3 linked regions of the Homo sapiens genome follow. The protein of the gene in region 3 purifies or fractionates together with the protein of the main gene of each other region. This does not show direct contact. Each region holds a gene or a part of one and is shown on either strand. Other genes may lie near its edges.

Region 1 (7,677 bases), on a different chromosome or scaffold from region 3:
TTACAGTAATCCTGTCACTTCTCAAAACTAGTTGTACTGGTATTTGACTAGATAAAATCAAATCCATAGACTGATTTGGGGAAAAATCCCATCTTTAATATGTTAAAAAATCCCCAACCCCAATATCACAGGTCTCTTTTTTTAATCAAATATTTTAGATTCCTTATAGTTTTCTACTTTCCCTCATATTTCTTGTTGTTTACTGCTACGTATTTTATTGTAACAACTGGAGTGTTCACGTTAAATTTCTGCTGCTAATAATCTACCACCAAGTTTTAATGTTAACTGATAGTTTGGAATATAAATTCACTTCATGTTAAGGAACTTCTCTCCTAATCATAGTTAACTCAGAGTTTTTAGCAACTATTGATTTTTAATTTTATCAAAAGCCTTGGAATACATTGAAGTCATCGTACGGTAAAGTGGCAGACAAGGTTATAGAATTAAAATGCCAACAAAAAAAGAAAGCAAGGAGACACTATTATTACTATTACTATTATTTGAGACAGGGTCTCGCTCTGTTGCCCAGGCTGGAGTGAAGTGGTGAGATCTCAGCTTACTGCAACCTCCGCCTCCCAGGTCCAAGTGATTCTCCTGCCTCAGCCTCCCGAGTAGCTGGGACTACAGGCGCCCGCGACCACATCTGGCTAATTATATTTTTAGCAGAGACGGGGTTTCACCACATTGGCCAGGCTGGTCTTGAACACCTGACCTCAAGTGATCTGCCCACCTTGGCCTCCCAAAGTGCTGGTATTACAGGCGTACATCACCCCACCTAGCCAGAGGACACTATTATTAAGAGACAAAGCAGGCCAGCGTGGTGGCACATGCCTGTAATCCCAGCGCTTTGGGAGGCCAAGGTGGGCGGTTCATTAGCTCAGGACTTGGAGACCACCCTGGCCAACATGGTGAAACCCCATCTCTGCTAAAAATACAAAAATTAGCCGGGCGTGGTGGCATACACCTGTAGTCCCAGGTACTCAGGAGGCTGAGGCAGGAGAATCACCTGAACCTGGGAGGCAGAGGTTGCAGTGAGCTGAAATTGTGCCACTACACTCCAGCCTGGGCGACAGAGCAAAACCTTGCCTCAAAATAAATAAATAAATAAATAAATAAATAATAAAAAAAAGAGACAAAGCAGAACAACAAGGTAGCTTTAAAAAGAACAAAAATAGTCACTTTACATTAATAGGTAAAATCATAGCATAACATGAAAGTGGCAAATCAAGACACAATTTTTATGTGCAGAATAATGCCGCATCAAAATACACATGAAAAACCTCTTAGAAACTGGGAAACACAGCAGTAGGATACTTTAAACTGTTACCATGACTTCTCTCAGTCTGTTACAGATCAGGTAGGTAAATTTAAAAACTACACTGAAGAATATAAGCTCTCACTGTTGCCAGGTTTCTACCTGCCTCGGCTCCTATTCACAGTGCTATACTTCAGTGTGGGTATCTCCTACAGTGCCAGTGCTGCTGCCAGTCTCTCTCTCTCCAGTTCCTATCCAGTTGTTTTGCTGGATATGCAGTCATCCACAGAATACTGAGGAGAGGGAGAGTTACCAGTCTTAATTACGTGCCCAAGTGTCTTCAGTCAGGGGACAGATGGTGGGCAAAATGCAGAGCATCTTCCTACTTCTTCAGTCAATCTGTTTCAACAACTGAAGCCAGTGAAGGCAAATGTTAAAGTCTGGGTATGTTTCCCTCATTCCTGCTCCATCTGCCTTATAATCAGGGTCAATTCCTCAAAGATTTTCGTATTATAACACTACCCGTTGGTCTTAGAGCCACATAATGAAAAAAAAAAAAAAGCCTAGCAAACTTCTAAAGCAAAATTCAAATCATACAATTATACACATCAGGTTTACTAGTACTAAAAACTATAAACCAATCCTAATAAGTTGTAGCTTAAATTCAATACAAAAAGTTCTAAATAGAAACTTGGCCTTATATAATGAGAGGCAGTATTAAGCTATGGTTAAATCATGAGCTCTGGAATCAGACAGGTTGGGTTCAAATCCTAGCTCTATCATTTACTAACATTATAACATTGAGAAAGTTATATGTCTAAGTATCCTTATATATTTCAATGGCGATAATACATTCCTTGTAGTTTGCTGAGGGGATTAATCAAATTAACACATATAAAATGATTGAAACAGTCTGGGTCTATAATCCCAGCGCTTTGGGAGGCCAAGGCAGGTGGACTGCTTGAGCTCAGGATTTGAGACCAGCCTGGACAACAAAGTGAGATCTCACCTTAAAAAAAAAATAAATAAATTAGCAAGCAAGGTGACATGAGCCTGTAGTCCTAGCTGAGGCTAAGGCAGGAGGATTCCCGGAGCCCAGGAGCTCAAGTTTGCAGTGGACTATGATTGTGCCACTGCACTCCAGCCTGGGTGACAGAGTGAGATCTTGTCTTGAAAAACAAAACAGTCTGGCACACTGTAAACATCCAAGAAATATTAACAACTGTATTAGTTATAATTACATTGGTGATGATATTAGATGTCACTGCATGCTATGTGTCCCTAATGATAATGGGGGAACAAGTCTTTAATTTTCTCTGACCTATTTCTAGTAAGTTGAGCAATCTGCAACATTAAAGAAATGTGTGGCCAGGCATGGTGACTCACGCCTGTAATCCCAGCACTTTGGGAGGCCAAGGTGGGAGGATCACTTGAACTCAGGAGTTCAGGACCAGCCTGGGCAACATAGTAAGATCCCATCTCTATTTTAAAAAAAAATTATATATATATGTGTGTGTGTGTGTGTGTGTGTGTGTGTGTATATATATATATCATTACTTAAAAAAAATCCTATTCTATATATTCAAGTTATCCATTTATTTCCTTAGTCAAACAGTGGCATAGTTCATTTTTTCAATTCAAAACTAGTACATGGGTATGCTTAATTCCATATCATAATTTTTCCACTGGAATTAATTTTCACAGTGCTGAATATGGAATGTATATACTCAATAACCCTGTGGGGAGCTTTTGAAAAATTCTAACACTTAGGCCCCACTCTTGAGATTCTAATTCAATTGATCCGGGTTAGGGTCTTAGCATTGGCACAGGTTGAGCATCTCTAATCCAAAAATCTGAAATCCTCCAGAATCTGAAACTTTTTGAGTACCAACATGATGCCACAAGTGGAAAATTCCATATCTCACCTCAAGTGACAGGTCGCAGTCAAAACACAGCCAAAACTTTGTTTCATGCACAATATTATTTAAAATATTATGTAAAATTCGTTTCAGGCTATGTGGTTAAGGTGTATATGAAACATGAATGAATTTTATTTTTAGACTTGGGTCTCATTCCCAAGATTATCTCATTATATACAGGTATATATTTCAAAATCTGAAAAAATTCCAATAACCAAAACACTTCTGGTCCCAAGATTTGGGATAAGGAACTCTCACCCTGCATTTTTTCAAAGTCCCACAAGTTGGAATTGAATAAGGTCACTAGATTGTATTAATATCAGTTTCTTAATTGTGACACTGTACTATAGTTATGTAAGATACTGCCACTGGGGATAACTGGTCGTAGGGTACTTACTGGTGGAAGAGTATTACCTGTAATTATATGTGCATCTACAATTATATTAAAATAAGACTTTTCAAAGTTCCCCAAATGATTCTAATGTGAAGCTATGATTGAGAACCGGTGCAATAAATACATTCTGATAGTAATACTGGATTTGATTGAAGAAGTCAAGTCTTCTTAATTTGATCACTAAACAGGTATCAGGATATAAATGAAAAAAGTGAAGACAGTATCTTTTTTTATTAATTGAATTTTATTGAGGTATAATTTACAAATAATTAAACACAACCATTTTAACAGTTTGACCCAGGTATATACTTACATAACCACTCTGTCAACAGAGAACATTTCCATCACTCCAGAAAGTTCCCTCTTGCCTTTTTGCAGTTAATTCCCCCTACTTCATCCCAGGAAACCACTGGGACTTTAACACAACCTGTGTTGTTTTTGCCTTAAAAAAAAAAAAACAACAAAAAAACAAACAGCCGAGCACAGTGACTCACACCTGTAATCCTAGCACTTTGGAAGGCTGAGGTGGGCAGATCACAAGGCCGGGAGTTCGAGATCAGCCTGGCCAACATAGTGAAACCCGATCTCTACTAAAAAATACAAAAATTAGCCAGGCATTGTGGCGCATGCCTGTAGTCCCAGCTACTCGGGAGACTGAGGCAGGAGAATCGCTTGAACCTGGGAGGCGGAGGTTGCAGTGAGCTGAGATCATGCTGAGAGCTAGACTCCGTCTCAAAAAAAAAAAACAAAAACAAACAAACAAATTAGGCTGGGCACAGTGGCTCACACCTGTAATCCCAGCACTTTGAGGTCTGAGGTGGGAGGATCACTTGAGCCCTGGAATTCAGGACCAACCTGGGCAACAAAGTGAGACCCTGTCTCTACAAAAAATTTTAAAAAATAATTAGCCAGGCGTCGTAGCGCATGCCTGTAGTCCCAGGTACTTGGGAGGCTGAGGTGGGAGGATCATTTAAGCCCAGGAGTTTTCAAGGCTGAAGTGAGCTATGATCAGGCCGCCGAACTGAAGCCTGGGTGACAGACTGAGACCCTGTCTCTAAAATAAATCAACAAACAAAACCAAAAGAAATGTCTTTCCTCTCTTACACACATGGGTATATGAGTGTGTGAGTATGCGTATGTCTGAGTGAGTGATAAAAATCCACTCCCTTAATATCATGAGTATGTGTGTCTATGAGTGATTAAAACTCAATAATTTAACAAATTTGTTTTATGAAATGAAGAGTGATTGAGAACTGTGTGGGACCCTGGTGCTTCCGAGAGATGATGGAGGGTGCAAACTGGTAGAAAGGATGTGAAGACTAAGAGAGGAAATCTGGGCCACTTGGAAATATGTAGCCATTGTGAGAGTAGAAAGTCTTCTGCTACTCATTCTCAGCTTTTTCCCTTCCCTCAGGCTAGTGAGAGATAGGAGTCTTGGAACACAAACTATAAGGCCAAGGTGGTAACAATCCATAATAACACAAATTTATTCACATGGTATTTATGATAGTCTTACAAAGCACTACATGTTAGCTCTTAGAGAGATAGAATGAGAATAGGGAGAAATCTTAGTGATAAGTGAGTATAGTTGCTCATTTTACAGATGAAGAGACTTAGGGAAAGGTTAAACAGCAGGGCCAAAGCCATAGAGCTGGTCAGGCTCAGGATCACACTCCAATTCCTTTACTTATAGTCCAGGTGATTCCATAACTTTGTGCTCTAGCAGGTAGAATTACTGTAAGAGATCCAAGACCTTGGGCTTTTTTCTCAGCATGTATTGATGTGCACAGCATTTATCCCTAAGTTAGAACATGCAGTATTCTAACACACATGTAGTTACTAAGCCCTAAGTTCTAAAATGCTCCATACAGATAGATGATTGCTTTAATTTATTTTGCCAAGTTTATTCATAAAATGGAATATCACATCAAAATTTTTAAGCATATTTAAGTCTCCCCATGAATATTGTATTTTAACTCAAAAATAATTTTTATACAATTTTCATTAGAAAATATATACAAATTTATAATCATTCTTTCTTAGGTTTTCCTTATGTTACCAATTATCATTTTATTTTCTAAATAACATTTCCCCCATCATTAGAAATCTGGGTTGCCAGTCAGCCTTTATTGTTTTGATTACTTCATCAAGGATCAAAATGTTTCTCTAGCAGAAACTCACTTTCATTTCTAAAGTTGTAGATAAAAAAACAATGGCAGAGAAGTAATCAAAAAGACAATCTCTTTTAAAGAATAGCAGCATATCCTTTGAAGGAAATTTGCTTCCAACTTACCTTTGGAAGGTGTAATTGGATTCTCTTTTCAATTAGAGCCCTGGGGTGTCCTCTTATCTCTTTGACCAATGCCTTGGAACATAAATGCTACATCAACATGGCAAGTAAGCCAAGGTTAGACAAGAGAATTACTAAATTCAATTAGGGTTAGTTCCTAATAGTTTAAGAAGGTAGGGAATAAAAAATTTAATATTCAGACACCTTACCTATTGGCAGAGAGATCTTTCTCTTTTTGGAGTTTGGCTTAAAAACAAAGCAACCCTATAAAAAGAAAGACGAAAAGCATAAAGTCAAAGTAGCCAAGGAGCAGAGAAATCTGATTAACCAAATATTTTATGGGTAAGCACTTTTTTAAAAAAAGATGTTAGGGGAGAGAACACATTTCTTTCAGGTTCTAAGAAATCACATCACTTCTCTCTGACCTATAGAAGGAAAATTCTAAAACAACAAGGGGGACTATCTACTCTCTCCCCTCCCTCCCATGAGATGCCCATTTTTGATTTTGCTCTTTGACACCTGATCTAAGAGGTAGACAAAGAAAATAAAAGCTGATTAAATTTAAGCCCAGAAAGGTTCCATTTTCATAAACTTAAAGGAATTAATACTACACATTAAAATGGGCTGGGCACAGTGGCTCATGCCTGTAATCCCAGCACTCTGGGAGGCCAAGGCGGGTGGATCACAAGGTCAGGAGTTTGAGACCAGCCTGGCCAACATGGTGAAATCCTGTCTCTACTAAAAATGCAAAAATTAGCCAGGCGTGTTGGTGTGAGCCTGTAATCCCAGCTACTCGGGAGGCTCAGACAGAAGAATCACTTGAACCCTGGAGATGGAGGCTGCAGTGGGCTGAGATCGTGCCATTGCACTCCAGCCTGGGCAACAAAGAGCGAAGCTCTGTCTCAAAAAATAAATAAATAAAAATGAAGATTAAAAAGGTTGAAAATAGTGATGTTCTCCCAACCCGAAACTTATTTAAACTCGAAGTATCTATAACCTTAGTAGTAAATAGATAATTGCAGCTGTTTCACTCTACATACTTCTCTTCATCTGATAAATGCCTACTCATTTATCCATTAAAGTTTGACTCAACACTCATCTCCTTCAGGAAACCTTTCACAATTCTCTAGCCAGAAATTCTCCTTTCCTCGAGATCTCTCAGTACTTGAACATCTTTATTTTGCATTGTTTTAAGTCACTTTAATTGTATATCGTAGTTGTTTATGGGTGTGTCTCCCTGAGTAGACTGTGAGTGCCTTCAAGCACAAACTGTATTTTATTTATAATTGTTTCTCCAATGTTTGGAATAGTGCTAACATACATATTAGGCAATCAGAATATGGAATGAATAAATGCTTGCCAAATAACTGTCCTGGTAATTTCCCAGCTATGTTTAGTTTCATATTATTGTTTGACCAGTGGTAGATCACCCCCAAGTTAGTGGTCCTAGTCTATTCTACCAATTCTAAAGTCATACATGATGGATAGCTTATAGTTTTTTTTTGTTTGTTTGTTTGTTTTTTTGAGACAGAGTCTCGCTCTGTCGTCCAGGCTGGAGTGCAATGGTGCGATCCTGGCTCACTGCAACCTTTGCCTCCCGGGTTCAAGCCATTCTCCTGCCTCAGCCTCCTGAGTAGCTGGGATGACAGGTGCCCACCACCATGCCTGGCTAATTTATTGTATTTTTAGTAGAGACGGGGTTTCACTATGTTGGCCAGGCTGGTCTCGCACTCCTGATCTCGTGATCCATCCGCCTCGGCCTCCCAAAGTGCTGGGATTAGAGGCATGAGCCACTGCACCCGGCCTGATGGATAACTTC
Region 2 (7,677 bases), on a different chromosome or scaffold from region 3:
TGAAGATTTTTATATCTATTGTTAAATTGCCCTCTGCAAAGATCATACTAATTCTCATTACTATATTCTGATTCCTACATTCTAGACACATGCCTGTCTCCTCATACCCTTGGCAACACTGCATACTGCCATTCTTTTTCATGTTTATCAGGGTGATGAGTGAAAATACTTCAGTGTTTTAATTTTTCAGTCTTCTTACTTCATCTAGTATGCCCTACATTTGTGTAGGACTTAAAGTAATTTTACAGATAGATGACATATCCGTGTTAAATGAGGTAATTTCTCATATCTTTCAGTTAAATATGAGTTAAATCAGCTTACCAGGTAGCATAACCACTGTCACCCTCAAGGACTTCTCAATACAGAGAAGGAGGGGGTGACACAGAATGTAAAAATTAAAATTATGAATTTAATAGAGACCACAATATAAGGAATTTGGCAATAAAAAAGATAAATGGGTTAGAAGGTATTTTCTAAAGAATTCAAAAAATGTTTTAAGTGATAGAAACATTGTCAAAATAAGTGTATCACCTTCTAAAATGACATTTTGAAAAAGTAAAATTGATAATGTTAATAAATTATAGTATGTCAGACCCTGTCAAACTGTCCTCCATGAGAACACATTAGGCACAGCTATAGAGATAATTCACATATTGGAAAATAGAAGCAAAGAAACTAACTAGAATACAGACCTGGAAAACACAGAGATTGAAAATATGAAAAGGAGATTTAGTAACACAGAGCATAGAGAGAAAAAGCATACCATATAGTTAGCCAGAGTTCCTAAAGAAAATAGTCCCAGTTTCTTCAGGAACTCTGGCTAACTATATGGTACGCTTATACCATATAAGCATATCATATGGTGTAAGGGGGACTATTTGAAGACATAATAGCTGAGAACTTTCCAGAATTGAAGAAAGGCACCAAGCCATGATTTAAGAAGCCCAACAAACCCAAGCAAGAATTCTTTCTAGACATATTGTAGTGAAACTGTGGGACAATAAATATAAAATCTTAAAAGACAGAGGAAAAAGGGGCCGGGTACGGTGGCTCACGCCTGTAATCCCAGCACTTTCGGAGGCTGAGGTGGGTGGATCACCTGAGGTTGGGAGTTCGAGACCAGCCTGACCAACATGGAGAAACCCTGTCTCTACTAAAAATACAAAACTAGCCGAGCGTGGTGGTGCATGCCTGTAATCCCAGCTACTCAGGAGGCTGAGGCAGGAGAATCGCTTGAACTTGGGAGGTAGAGCTTGCGGTGAGCCAAGACCGTACCACTGCACTCCAGCCTGGGCAACAAGAGCAAAACTCCATTTAAAAAAAAAAAAGTAGAGAAAAAAGGCCTCAAAGGAGCAACTATGAGAGTGATAGCCAATTAGTCTTCAACCATAATATAAATATAGAGACAGTGGTAATTATTTCAATATGCTAGGAAAAAACCCTCAGTCTAGATTTATACCCAACAAACATAGGTTCTTTGTCCTTGCCAAGAACAAAGATGAAATAAATACATATTCAGACAAGGAAAGCTGAGTAAGTTTGCCAGCAGACCTCCAATAAAGGAATTCTAAGTTCAGAGAGAAGGAAATTATTTTCAAACGGAAGGTCTGAGAAGCTAGAAGGAATGAAGAACAAAAAGTGTTAAATATGTATGTACATGTTAATCTGATAATGTCTTTTGGGATTAATAGAGATGGAACAAAAATAGAAGACAATAATAGCATATAAATTATGAAGTGAGGCCGGGTGTGGTGGTTTATGCCTGTAATCCCAGCACTTTGGGAGGCCGAGGCGGGCGGATCACTTGAGGTCAGGAGTGTGAGACCAGCCTGGCCAACCTGATGAAACCCTGTCTCTACTAAAAATACAAAAAAATTAGCCTGGTGTGGTGGCATACACCTGTAATCTCAGCTACTTGGGAGGCTGAGGCAGGAAAATCACTTGAACCTGGGAGGCAGAGGTTGCAGTGAGCGGAGATCACATCACTGCACTCCAGCCTGGGTGACAGAGTGAGACTCCATCTCAAAGTAAAATAAAAATAAATGATAAGTGACATTCTAAGTTTTTATGTATTTGGGGGGATAATAATATATGTTAACTTTGGGCTTTAATAGGTATTTAAAATTTTCAAGGAACCAAAAGACAAGAAAGATTATAATTTCCAGACTAGTACAAGAAAAAGTACAGAATGAGAAAAAAATTCCAAAAGAAGGCAAGAAAGGAAAAGAAAAAAAGACAAGATATAATAAATAAAAAGCACAAAGAATAGCTGAAAATAAATCCAAACATTACTAGTTGCAATAACTATAAGGTACTAAATATTCTAATTAAAAGACAAAGAGTAGCTTGGCGCAGTGGCTCACGCCTACAATCCCAACATTTTGGGAAGCCAAGGCAGGTGGATCACTTGAGCCCAGGAGTTTGAGACCACCCTGGGCAACATAAGGAGACCCTGTCTCTACAAAAAGTACAAAAATTAGCTGGTTGTGGTGACGTGTCCCTTTGTCCCAGCTACTCAGGTGGCTGAGGCAGGAGGACCACTTGAGCTCGGAAGGTGGAGGCTGCAGTGAACCAGGATTGTGCCACTGCACTCCAGCCTGGGCAACAGAGACCCTGTCTTGCAAAAAATAAAATAAAATTAAAAAATAAATAAAAGAACAGTACCTCTTAAAATCTTACTCTTAATGGCATTCGTAGACTACATTCAGGCCTGCTATTCAGCTGATACTGGTTCAGCTATACTAGTTGTTAAAATATTGATATGTCCATAGTGGTTGAACAGTTACTGTCCCAAGCCTGTTAAGTGTCATCTTAATGCTTCATCGCCTTCCTTGGGACTTCCTATAGTAACCAATTATATAGCAACTAAAGAGTTAAGAACTAGGACAGCAAGAGACTGTCAGCAAACATCTCACTGGAGAACTACAGGGCAGCAGCCATTCTAATTACTCCTCACCCGTGCCTGGCAACCTCCAACACACAAAAAAATCCATAGGCCCAGTGACCATCTGGCTTCCCTAAGAGTAGGGCTGCCTACCTTTCTCATATCACTCTCACATGGCCCCTTTGGGAACTACAGCCCCGGGAGATCCAGAAAGAAGAGCAGTCAAATGAGAGTAATAGTACTGTACTACCGCAGTTGCCATCAAAATATATTAATTCTCTTGGCACAGTATACATTCCCATGGCAGGATAGAATCTACAGCAGATGATCGAGGCCTGTGGGGATGGTTTATGGATGAATAACTTCTGGGATGCACATCCTTAGTTTTATCATTCTTGTTTAATTTCCCCATTATTTAGATAGGATAAGTGTGCCAACACCCAATGAATACCTGCCTACAGTAGGCATTAATGACACTCATGTTATAAATGAAAATGACTACCAAAATACATCTTTTTCTGTCTACCAGACACATTTAGTTGGGGGAATTAAGAAGCAGAAAGTTTATTAAATGAAGGTTCTGTACCTTGGTGTATGCTGTTAACTGCTGTGTTACGTTACCTCTCACCTGGACTGAGGGATTAGGTTTAATATAATTAAGTATATCAATAAATTATTTTTGTGACTTAGTTATTAATATATTTAAACAAATATTGACTATATGAAACTAACAGCAAGCATTTGAAGGGCTAAAAACATTTTAAAATATACTTACTGTTACTTCAGCAAAAGCCAAAAAGAGGATTCAGCTCCCATGAACAATTCTGTTGATGTTAAGAGTGATTTCTTTTTTTTAGGCCAGGTATGGCAGCTCATGCCTATAATCCTAGCACTTTGGGAGGCTGAAGGTGGAGGATTGCTTGAGCTCGAGTTCAAGACCAGCTGGGGCAACATAGGGAGACCTTGTCTCTACAAAAAATTTTAAAAAGTGTGATTTTTTTTAACGTATCATGACTACAAGTTATTTAATGACTATAAATTTAATGTGGACATTCTTAGAAGGGCTTTATCTAGTTTCCTATGTCAATTCATGGTTCAGACAAGGGCATCTGTGTCAAATAAAAGATTATGGCTACAATTTCCAAAAATTAATAAATGATTGAAAATTACTAGAATGATTTAATGAACAATTTGAGCTACAATGGTTATCACCTGGTGAGCATTTTTATAATCTATATAGGTTAATTTATTTAGAAAATGTTTTTAAATTTTATTTATGTTAATTTATATTACCACTGAATTTTCTTTTCTTTTCTTTTTTTTTTTTTTTTTTTTTGAGACAGAGTTTCACTCTTGTTGTCCAGGCTGGACTGCAATGGCGCGATCTTGCCTGAATGCAACCTCCAGCTCCCAGGTTCAAGCAATTCTCCTGCCTCAGCCTCCCAAGTAGCCGGGATTACAGGCATGCACCACCACGCTCGGCTAATTTTGTATTTTTAGTAGAGATGAGGTTTCACCATGTTAGTCAGGCTGGTCTTGAACTCCTGACCTCAGGTGATCCACCCACCTCAGCCTCCCAAAGAGCTGGGATTATAAGTGTGAACCACTGTGCCTGGCCTGAATTTTTAACCTCTTTGAATATCACACTTAACTGTATGTAACAGCCGCTTCATCCTTATATTTTTCAAACACACAAGGAACAGTTATAAAATTTTCACATATGAGACCACAAGTTTCAAAAGATTGGTATCATACCGAATACAGTTTCTCACCACAATGTGATCACTAGAAGTAAATAAAAAGATAACTAGCTGGCATGGTGGTTCATACCTGTGATCCCAACACTTTGGGAGGCTGAGGCAGGTGGATCACTTGAGCCTGGGAGTTCCAGACCATCCTTACAAAAAATACAAAAATTAGCCAGTTGTGGGGCTCATGCCTATAGTCCTAGCTACTCAGGAGGCTGAGGTGGGAGGATCACTTGAACCCCGGAAGCAGAGGTTGCAGTGAGCCAAAATCGCGCCACTGCACTCCAGCCTGGGCGACAGCCTGGGCGACAGAATGAGACCCTGTCTCAAGAAAAATATATATATTATATTATGTAAAAGTATATTATATATAATATAAAATATATATTTATATAATATATAAATATATAAAACATATATTTATATAATATATTATATAAATATATAATATATGTAATATATAAAATATATAATACATAATATATAATATAAAATATATTTATATAATATAATATAAAAATATAATATATTTATATAATATAATATAAAAATATATAATATAAAATATAAATATATTATATAATATAAAATATAAATATATATTTATATATTTATATTTATATATAAAATTTATATATAAAAATATATAAAAATACATACATAAAATATATATTTATATAATATATATTATATATTTTATATTTTTGGAAGTCAAGAGACAAGTATAATTAAAAAGATAACCAGAGACCTGGCACAGTGGGTCACACTTGTAATCCCAGCACTTTGGAAAACTGAGGTGGGAGGATCTGGCAGGAGTTCAAGACCAGCCTGGGCAAGGAAGAAAGACTGTCTACAAAAATTTAAAAATTAGCCTGGTGTGGTGGCATGTGCCTGTGGTCCTAGCTACCCAGGAAGGTGAGGCAGGAGGACTGCTTGAGCTTCAGAGTTTGAGGTTGCCACTGCATTCTAGCCTGGGTGACAGAATGAGACTCTGTCTCAAAGAAAAAAAAAAAAAAAGATAACTAGAAAAGTCTCATTCATTTTCAAAAAGAATTGATAAATTCATGGGTCAAAGGGGAAATTATAATGGAAATTAGAAATGTTCAGAACTAAATGATAATGAAATCATATGTCTCAAAACTTGTGGGATACAAGTAAAGCTGTACTTAGTAGGAAAATTATAGTCTTTAATAAACTGATAAGGAAAATTAATGAGCTAAGTATTCATCTCATGAAAGAGAATAGCAAAGTTATCTGCAAATAATAGGAAAATCAATCTAAAGAGAGCAGAAGGAAATATAGTAAAAAAAAAAAAAAGGTAGAAATTAGTGAAATTTTAAAAACCATCAGAAATACTGAATAGGGACAAAGTTTTGTCTTTGAAAACACTTATAAAAATGAAAAACATCCATGGTACTAAGAAAATGCACAGATAATATTCAGAATAAAAAGAGGGACATAGGTCGGCACAGTGGCTCACACCTGTAATCCTAGCACTTTGGGAGGCCGAGGCGGGTGGATCACCTGAGGTCAGGAGTTCGAGACCAGCCTGGCTAACAGGCGAAGCCCTGACTCTACTCAAAATAAAAAAATTAGCCAGGCATGGTGGTGGGCGCCTATAATCCCGGCTACTCCGGAGGCTGAGGCAGGAGAATCGCTTGAACCCGAGGGGCGGAGGTTGCAGTGAGCCAAGACTGTGCCACTTCACTCCAGCCTGGGCAAAAGAGCGAAACTCTGTCTCAAATTAAAAAAATAAAAGGGTTAGGGGGAGCGGGGCGGCCGTGCGCGGTGGCTCACGCCTGTAATCCCAGCATTTTGGGAGGCCAAGGCGGCTGGATCACCTGAGGTCAGGAGTTTGAGACCAGCCTGGCTAACATGGTGAAACCCCATCTCTACTAAAAATACAAAAAAGTAGCTGGGCATGGTGGCAAACGCCTGTAATCCCAGCCACTCAGGAGGCTGAGACAGGAGAATCACTTGAACCTGGGAGGCGGAGGTTGCAGTGAGCTGAGATTGCGCCACTGCACTCCAGCCTGGGCAACGAGAGCGAAACTCCATCTTAAAAAAAAAAAAAAGTTGGGGGGACAATTTTATATGCAAGAGGTAGATTGTTTGGACCAAACTTCCAACTGAGAATAATCAGAAAAGCTAGAGAAAATATTAAATATTTAATGTAAGATATAGAAAGCTTATGTGTGAGGGGATTAGAGCATTATCAGGGAAATGAAGAAATTGCAGGGTCAAGTTCTAAAAAATAGGAAAGCCAGTGATGTGAGCCCAGCATTTGAGCTCGCTTCTCTGAGAGACATCTGTCAATCTCAAAAGCAGCAGCAGCAATGAGGCTGAATGGTATTTCTTTCTTTCTTTCTTTCTTTTTTTTTTTGAGACAGAGTTTCATTCACTGTTGTTGCCCAGGCTGGAGCGCAATGGCGCAATCTTGGCTCATTGCAACCTCTGCCTCCCGGGTTCAAGCGATTCTCCTGCCTCAGTCTCTGGATTAGCTAGGATTATAGGCGCCTGCCACCACGCCCGGCTAATTTTTGTATTTTTAGTAGAAACGGGCTTTCTCCATGTTGGTCAGGCTGGTCTCGACCTCCTGACCTCAGGTGATCTGTCTGCCTCGGCCTCCCAAAGTGCTGGGATTACAGGCTTGAGCCACTGCGCCTGGCCTCTGAATGGTATTTCTAATGGACTCATGGGTGGGATAGATGAGATTACAAGAATTGCAATTTAGGATCCGCAATTTAGGTTTGGGATTGAAACTCCCCTCCCCTCACCCAGTATACCCTAGGACTAAAGGTGAATCCAGAATCGACAGTACTCATGGGGACTAAAGGCCAGCTTCAAATAATCTCATTCCCTACGTAGATTAAGAAGACCTCAGATTGCCGGCACCTCTACTCTAGCTTACTTGCCATAATTAAAGATGAATCTTCTATGGAAGAAGAAAATATGCAGCTGAGTGCCGTGGCTTACACCTTTAATCCAAGTTCTTTGGGAGGCTGAGGAGGGAAGATTAATTGAGGCCAGGAGTTGGAGACCAGT
Region 3 (7,013 bases):
AGGCAGGAGAACTGCTTGACCCCGGGAGGTGGAGGTTGCAGTGAGCCGAGATTGTACCACTGCACTCCAGCCTGGGCAGCAAAGGCTGCCCATCTCAAAACAAACAAACAAACAAATAAAAAAACACACACAAAAACATTGAGCTCAGTTTCCTCAACGAAAAAAGGAGCATATACCTAACCTACCTTCCTTGCTAGGCACTGAGAAGGGCCAATAAAATTATGTTTATAAAACTTAGTATTTTAATGTAAGAAAACACCCCCCTCACACACAAACACATTTCCTCCCACCAAACAACCTCCACAAGCTTGGAATCAGTCATCCTGGGTAATGGATGACTAGATGTGGGCCATGGAGGTATCTGACAGAAGAAAGGTGACTACATCAGGACAGAACTTGACTCAAAACTAAATTCTAAACAAAATATTTTTATCCTACAAAACAGCTCAATGAGCCACTCCCCACAGCTAATCCTCCATCTTTCATAGAGGTCATCTGGCCACAGTGGCTAGACCTGGGCACACGCAGGGACAGAGCAAAACAGAAGAGGGGCCTATGGCACTATCTGGATGGAGAGGAAAACTCATGTGCGCTATTTTTCGGATGACCCTAGGCTTGTATTATTAGAAAAGTGCTTTCCTTCCTAGGACTTCTCCTTCCAAGGCCTATACTCAGTTAAGAGAGAGACTGAAAAGAGATGGTGCCTGGCCTTAGATTAACTGAGGTGCTGTTGTATGCATGCTGCTAATGGATCATTAAAAAAGCTGGGAGTCAGAAAAATCACATCCATGTCTTTGAATGGCTCCTGCTGTCCCAGCAGCCTAGCCGGCTGGCAGAACTAGCTGCTGAGCACCAACTCCAGGAAGAAAAGGAGCAAACAGAAGAAGGCCAACCCAGCTTGCTGTTTTTTTGGCTGAGTAGGGAATTGACACAGACCACCTCCAGCTCCTGTCTGGAAGTTTCGAGATCAGAGAGCTTCAGGCACAGCTGGGTTCACAGCTGCACCATTTGGAGCATTGGGCTCATTAATATTCATGAGCCATCCCCACCAATCGGCAGAGCGGATGCCATTAGCTTAGCATCTGTCGGGTTTTTGTGAGGGTTGCACATGGAGTTTTTTTCCCCTTTTAAATGAACTTCTTCTGACATTTTGGATTTGCCTCTGTAGGTTTTCTATCCTCGCCTTGCTCTGCTGCATCATATAAAGGAGAGACCCAGGGGAGGCGGGCAGGAAAGAGGGATGAATACCAGCCAGGGCTTTGCATCTGCCTGTTGACAAACTTTATTTCTCTTTCAGCACCTGGCACCTCAGACAGACTGCGAGGATGGAAGCAGCATCAGGTAAATTATACCTAACAAGGTTCACGCCCAGAACTGTGAGAAGAGTTGGATCCCAGCTCTTTGGAAGACAATCCTTCCTCCAGTGGTGAACTTGAGCTGCACACACAATGCAGGAGGGCTACAGAGCACAGTTCTGAAGCATTATTTCCACACTGATAAATTCATGATTTATGAAAGGAAATACTGCCAGCGCTCACTCCCTCCTTCTCTGCTACAGCTTGTTAGACACAAATTGCAACAACAATCTTAAATACTTGCATTTTATTTCAGGCCAAAGCCCCTCCACTCTGAACTAAATGCCATGACAGTCCCACAGCATAGGCTGGTAGTAAAAGAGCCCACAGACAGGGTAGGATAGCCAGAGGAGGGAGGAGTGGGCGACAGGGAGGGGAAGGATCACACACACAAACCTAAGAGTAGAGCAATGCAGAATGCCTGTGGCACTCGGCTCCTACCAGCTCTGGCTCTCAGTGGAGATGAAGAATGGCAGCAGGAGGACAGAATGCCTCATTGTCTGAAGGAGAGCGTGTTGTTTCTCATCTCCATCCCCAGAGCCCTCTCTTTCAGGCAGGCAGAAACAAAGCCCTTGCACCCCACTGCACTGCGCAACACAGCAGAGACGCTGGTGGCGGAAGCCCTGGAGGCAGGGAGCTGCTACCAAAGGAGAAGAAAAGGATTCCAAAAAGAAAGGAGCCCACTCTAACCCTGCGGAAAAGATGGCCACATGTCTGCTTTATAACCAGAAGAGACAGTAACAGCCCGGGACAGCCTTTCCCAAAATAAAGGCCCCTGGGCTGTTACTGTTCCCTCTGGCTGTGGCCAGCCACTTCTCTCTCATGCATGACCATGAGCTGTTGTGCAGGTCTCAGGCTCCACTCAGCCAGGCTAAGGTCTCGGGACATAAATCCCCAGCAGCAGGAGTCACAGCACCAGTTCCATTCAGTGGTATCAGTGAAAGAAAAAGCAAGGAGGTGGGAAAGTAAATATTCATCCCCCTGTCCATGCAAGGAGGTAGGCAAGAGGCCAGCCTCCCACAAACAAAGTGCTCTAGGGCTACAGCAAAAACTGAAGCCAGCCAAGATGGGGATACAACATAACCACTCCCAGTGGGATGATGTTCAATATGGCAGCTTAGAATTTGCCACATACGGGTCCCCAAAACTGGTCACCTGAGGAGATACTCCTGGTCCTACATACAAATGACCTGCAGAAACTCAGATCCCAGGAGAGTAATATAGGGTTCTGTTCAAAAGCAACAGCCCCTGTGTCTTATGTTTAACTTACAAACATCTGCACAGTATTTGTTCCCATGGAAGAGGCATAAGGGGCTGTAATGACTGACCTCTGTCAATCAGCCCAAGCAGAGGTGACTAGAAGACACTAAGCAGCCCAGCCTCCCACATACCTGCCCTGTGCCCAGTCCCACCTGAGTAAGTCTCCTGGCCCGCATCTTCTCTGACCATCTCAGAGCAGAACCCAGAGCTCACTTTTCCAAAACTGTTTCTAACTGACCAGGGTCCAAAGGCACAGCATGATCTCCTCCCACAGCCCTCCTCACAGACTGAAGAGTGGAGGTTCCCTCTTTGGGTCTTCCAAAATCACAGCATAATGGTGAGGAGAGGGGTGGGAGAGTGGGACTTTCCAAGGAAGGAACCTCAGAGTCAACAACTGGAGCCCACACTTCTAAATGGTCCTTTTCTTCACTGGGAGGCGGTGAGGGAGAGCTCCTCCTACCCGATCTTGGAAGAAAGCAGCAACTGGAAAAGAGTGGGAAAGGGAAAAGAAAGGTATGAACAGCTTGGGTAACATAGGGAGACTCCGTCTCTACAAAAAAATAAATTAGCCAGGGATGTTGGCATGTGCCTGTAATCCCAACTACTCAGGAAGCTGAGGCCAGAAGATTGCTTGAGCCTTGGAGGTCAAGGCTGCAGTGAGTTATGATTACACCACTGCACTTCAGCCTGGGCAACAGAGTGAGACTCTGTCTCAGAAAAAAAAGTATGAACATATAAACAAAAATGAACAGAAAGGGAAGTCTCTCTGAGCCTGTTCTGACTCAGGAGGCTGCCCGATTAAAAAAAAAAAAAATGGCTGGGCATGGTGAATTATTTGAGTCTGGGAGGTGGAGACCAACCTGGGTAACCTGGTGAAACCCTATCTCAATTTAAAAAAATAAAAAAGAGGCCGGGCGTGGTGGCTCACGCCTGTAATCCCAGCACTTTGGGAGACCGAGGTGGGCAGATCACGAGGTCAGGAGATGGAGGCCATCCTGGCTAACACGGTGAAACCCCGTCTCTACTAAAAATACAAAAAAAATTAGCCGGGCATGGTGGCGGGCGCCTGTAGTCCCAGCTACTCGGGAGGCTGAGGCAGGAGAATGGTGTGAACCCGGGAGGCAGAGCTTGCAGTGAGCTGAATCGTGCCACTGCACTCCAGCCTGGGCAACAGAGCAAGACTCCATCTCAAAAAAAAAAAAAAAAAAAAGGCCAGGTGCGATGGCTCACACCTGTAATCCCAGCACTTTGGGAGGCTGAAACGGGTGGATCACCTGAGGTCAGGAGTTCGAGACCAGCCTGGCCAACATGGTGAAACCCTATCTCTACTAAAAATACAAAAACTTAGCTGGGTGTGGTGGCAGGTGCCTGTAATCCCAGCTACTAGGGAGGCTGAGGCAGAAGAGTTGCTTGAACCTGGGAGGCGGAGGTTGCAGTGAGCCGAGATCATGCCACTGCATTCCAGCCTGGGTAACAGAGCAAGACTCTGTCTCAAAAAAAAAAAAAAAAAAAAAAACAGATAAATGCAAGTGAATGGATAAACAAAATGTGGTATATAGCACCATATAAATGGACTGCTATTTAGCCATAAAAATGGGGGAAAAAAAGAGAAAAAAACAGTAATGAAGTAATGACACATGATAAAATACAAATGAACCTTGAAAACATTGTTAGATGAAAAAAGCCAGTTACAAAAGACCACAAATCATATGACTCCATTTGTGTAAATGTCCAAAATAGACAAATGCATAGACAGAGAAAGTAGACTAGTGGTTGCCAGGAGCTGGGGGGGAGGGAAGGACAGGGGAGTCACTACTCATGGGTACAGGGTTTCTTTCGGGGTGATGAAAATGTTCTAAAATTGACTGTGGTGGCTGACAGTTATACAACCCTGTGACTATATTAAAAACTACTGAACTGTATCTAAAAAGGTAAACTTTATGGCAGGTAAATTGTGTGTCAATAAAGCTATTAGGCCAGGCTTATGCCAATAATCCTAGCACTTTGGGAGGCAGAGGCAGGCGGATCACCTAAGGTCAGGTGTTTGAGACCAGCCTGGCCAACATGGCAAAATCCCGTCTCTACTAAAAATACAAAACTTAGCCAGGTGTGGTGGCACTTGCCTGTAATCCCAGCTACTCAGGAAGCTGAGGCAGGAGAATCGCTTGAACCCAGGAGGCAGAGGTTGCAGTGAGCCGAGATCACGCCACTGCACTCCAGCCTGGGTGAAAGAGTGAGCGTCCGTCTCCACACAAAAAAATAAATAAATAAAAAGGGAGGGAGGAGGAATAAAAAACCGAATAAATGAGAAAGCTTTCCCTTCTTTCTCCCCAGGTTTCAGTAGGAGCCCCTGCTACCCAGTGGTGGGTTAACACAGACCCACCTGGATAGAAAGCCACGCACCCAAAGAACAAGAAAGGTTGTGAAAGGCTACCAATGCTATGACATTACTTTCCCTAACAAATGGACACCTCTCTGGTCCAGGTTATAGCAAACCTAGCCCCTGCTATCTCAAAGAGTACTCCAGTTACCTCTTAGGCTGGTCTCCTTTAGCCAGGTGAGAAGAGCTCTGCCTCTCTTCCTGGGCCCAGCCACAGTTTGACATAGCATATCGAAGAATGGCATCAGACACAGTCATGGTACTTCGGCCCTGGACACAGGCTTCTATCTCAGGCACCGAGAGCTGGCTTTGCAGGAATAGGTGCAACTGGCTGTCTGACAGGAGAACCACACTCTGCAGGACCCTGGGAAAAACACAGGTAGCACAACACAGAGCATCACCCTGAGGAACTGCTCTCCATTCCCCATCCTCTTAAGAACTTCTGGCTACCTGAGCAGGGAGCTCCATCCTGCCTGGCACATTCCTCCACCCCTGCCTCCACCCTTGGTGGCCAGCACCAGCCGTTCTGTCCACTCACTTTTCAAGGAAGTGCTGCAGACCTTGTCGTCGCTTCTCAATGAACTCATCTGAGGTGCCGAAGAAGGTTGACTTCCCAGGAAGTTCAGGAACAGGCCTGTGCAGCCACATGATATAACACCCATGATAAGTGTAACATCTAAGATAGTCATTCCGGCCTCTGATCAAGGAAATCCCTTAAAAAGAGGTCTAATCAATACAAATAGCTTTTTTTTTTTTTTTTGAGATGGAGTCTCGCTCTGTCGCCCAGGCTGAAGTGCAGTGGTACAATCTCGGCTTACTGCAACGTCTGCCTCCCGGGTTCAAGCAGTTCTCTGCCTCAGCCTCCCGAGTAACTGGGATTACAGGTGCAGGCCACCACACCCAGCTAATTTTTTGTATTTTTAATAGAGACGGGGTTTCACCATGTTAGCCAGGATGGTCTTGATCTGACCTCGTGATCCCTGCCTGCCTCGGCCTCCCAAAGTGCTGGGATTACAGGCATGAGCCACCGTGCCTGGCCCCAATTAGCTTTTAATAAGGGGTGGTGCTAACATTGACTGCATGCCAAGTGTCAAGCCAGACTGTGCTAAATGTTTTATAAACATGATTTCATTTAGTCATCCCAAAACCCCGTGAGAAAGATATTAACTCACTTCAGATCAGAGAAGTTAAGTAAATGTCTCACTGTTACACAGCTAATAAGCAGCAAAGCTCATATCAGAACCAGATCTATGACTATAAAACCCATGCTGATACATTATTTTTGTCTGTTTGATTTTAGAGACAAGGTATTGCTTTCCAAGCTGCTCTCTCCAGGTTGCCCAGGCTGGAGTGCAGTAGCATAAACGTGAGCATAGCTCGCCGCAGCCTCAAATTCCTGGGATGAAGTAATCCTCCTGCATCAGCCTCCCAGAATAACTATGACTACCGGTACGTGCCACTGTGTGCACCTAATTTATTTATTTGTTTACTTATGTATCTGTAGAGACAGTATTGCTCTGTTGCCCAGGCTGGTCTCAAACTCCTGGCCTCAAGTGATCCTCCTTCCTTAACCTCCCAAAGCACTGGAATTACATGTGTGAGCCACCAAGCCGAGCCACACTATGTTGTTTATGAAACCCACTCCCAGCTTGGTGCCATGGTTCATGCCTGTAATCCTGGCACTTTGGGAGGCCGAGGTGGGCAGATCACTTGAGCTCAGGAGTTCAAGACCAGCTTGGGCGACATGGTGAAACCTCATCTCTCCTTTAAAAAAAAAAAACAGCCAGGCGCGGTGGCTCACGCCTGTAATCCCAGCACTTTGGGAGGCCGAGGTGGGTGGGGATCACGAGGTCAGAAAATCGAGACCATCCTGGCTAACACGGTGAAACCCCATCTCAACTAAAAAATAGAAAAAACTAGCCGGGCGTGGTGGCGGGCGCCTGTAGTCCCAACTACTCGGGAGGCTGAGGCAGGAGAATGGCGTGAACCTGGGAGGCGGAGCTTGCAGTGAGCTGAGA

Evidence for each region.
Region 1: the proteins of SNX11 (region 3) and ORC3 purify together in Homo sapiens (affinity purification with mass spectrometry; 3 studies listed by BioGRID and IntAct, with this or other methods). This does not show direct contact.
Region 2: the proteins of SNX11 (region 3) and DCAF10 purify together in Homo sapiens (affinity purification with mass spectrometry; 4 studies listed by BioGRID and IntAct, with this or other methods). This does not show direct contact.

What each region holds. Positions count from the first base shown.
Region 1 is NC_000006.12:87,592,798-87,600,474, reverse strand, and holds part of ORC3 (origin recognition complex subunit 3), read right to left. Parts: intron 6,125-7,677; exon of another isoform or gene 6,123-6,124; coding exon 6,068-6,122; intron 5,949-6,067; exon of another isoform or gene 5,862-5,948; intron 1-5,861. UniProt on the Homo sapiens protein: Component of the origin recognition complex (ORC) that binds origins of replication. DNA-binding is ATP-dependent. The specific DNA sequences that define origins of replication have not been identified yet.
Region 2 is NC_000009.12:37,803,460-37,811,136, forward strand, and holds part of DCAF10 (DDB1- and CUL4-associated factor 10), read left to right. Parts: intron 1-7,677. UniProt on the Homo sapiens protein: May function as a substrate receptor for CUL4-DDB1 E3 ubiquitin-protein ligase complex.
Region 3 is NC_000017.11:48,117,320-48,124,332, reverse strand, and holds the end of SNX11 (sorting nexin-11), read right to left. Parts: intron 5,630-7,013; coding exon 5,534-5,629; intron 5,360-5,533; coding exon 5,147-5,359; intron 3,099-5,146; coding exon 2,825-3,098; 3' UTR 732-2,824; downstream 1-731. UniProt on the Homo sapiens protein: Phosphoinositide-binding protein involved in protein sorting and membrane trafficking in endosomes. Regulates the levels of TRPV3 by promoting its trafficking from the cell membrane to lysosome for degradation.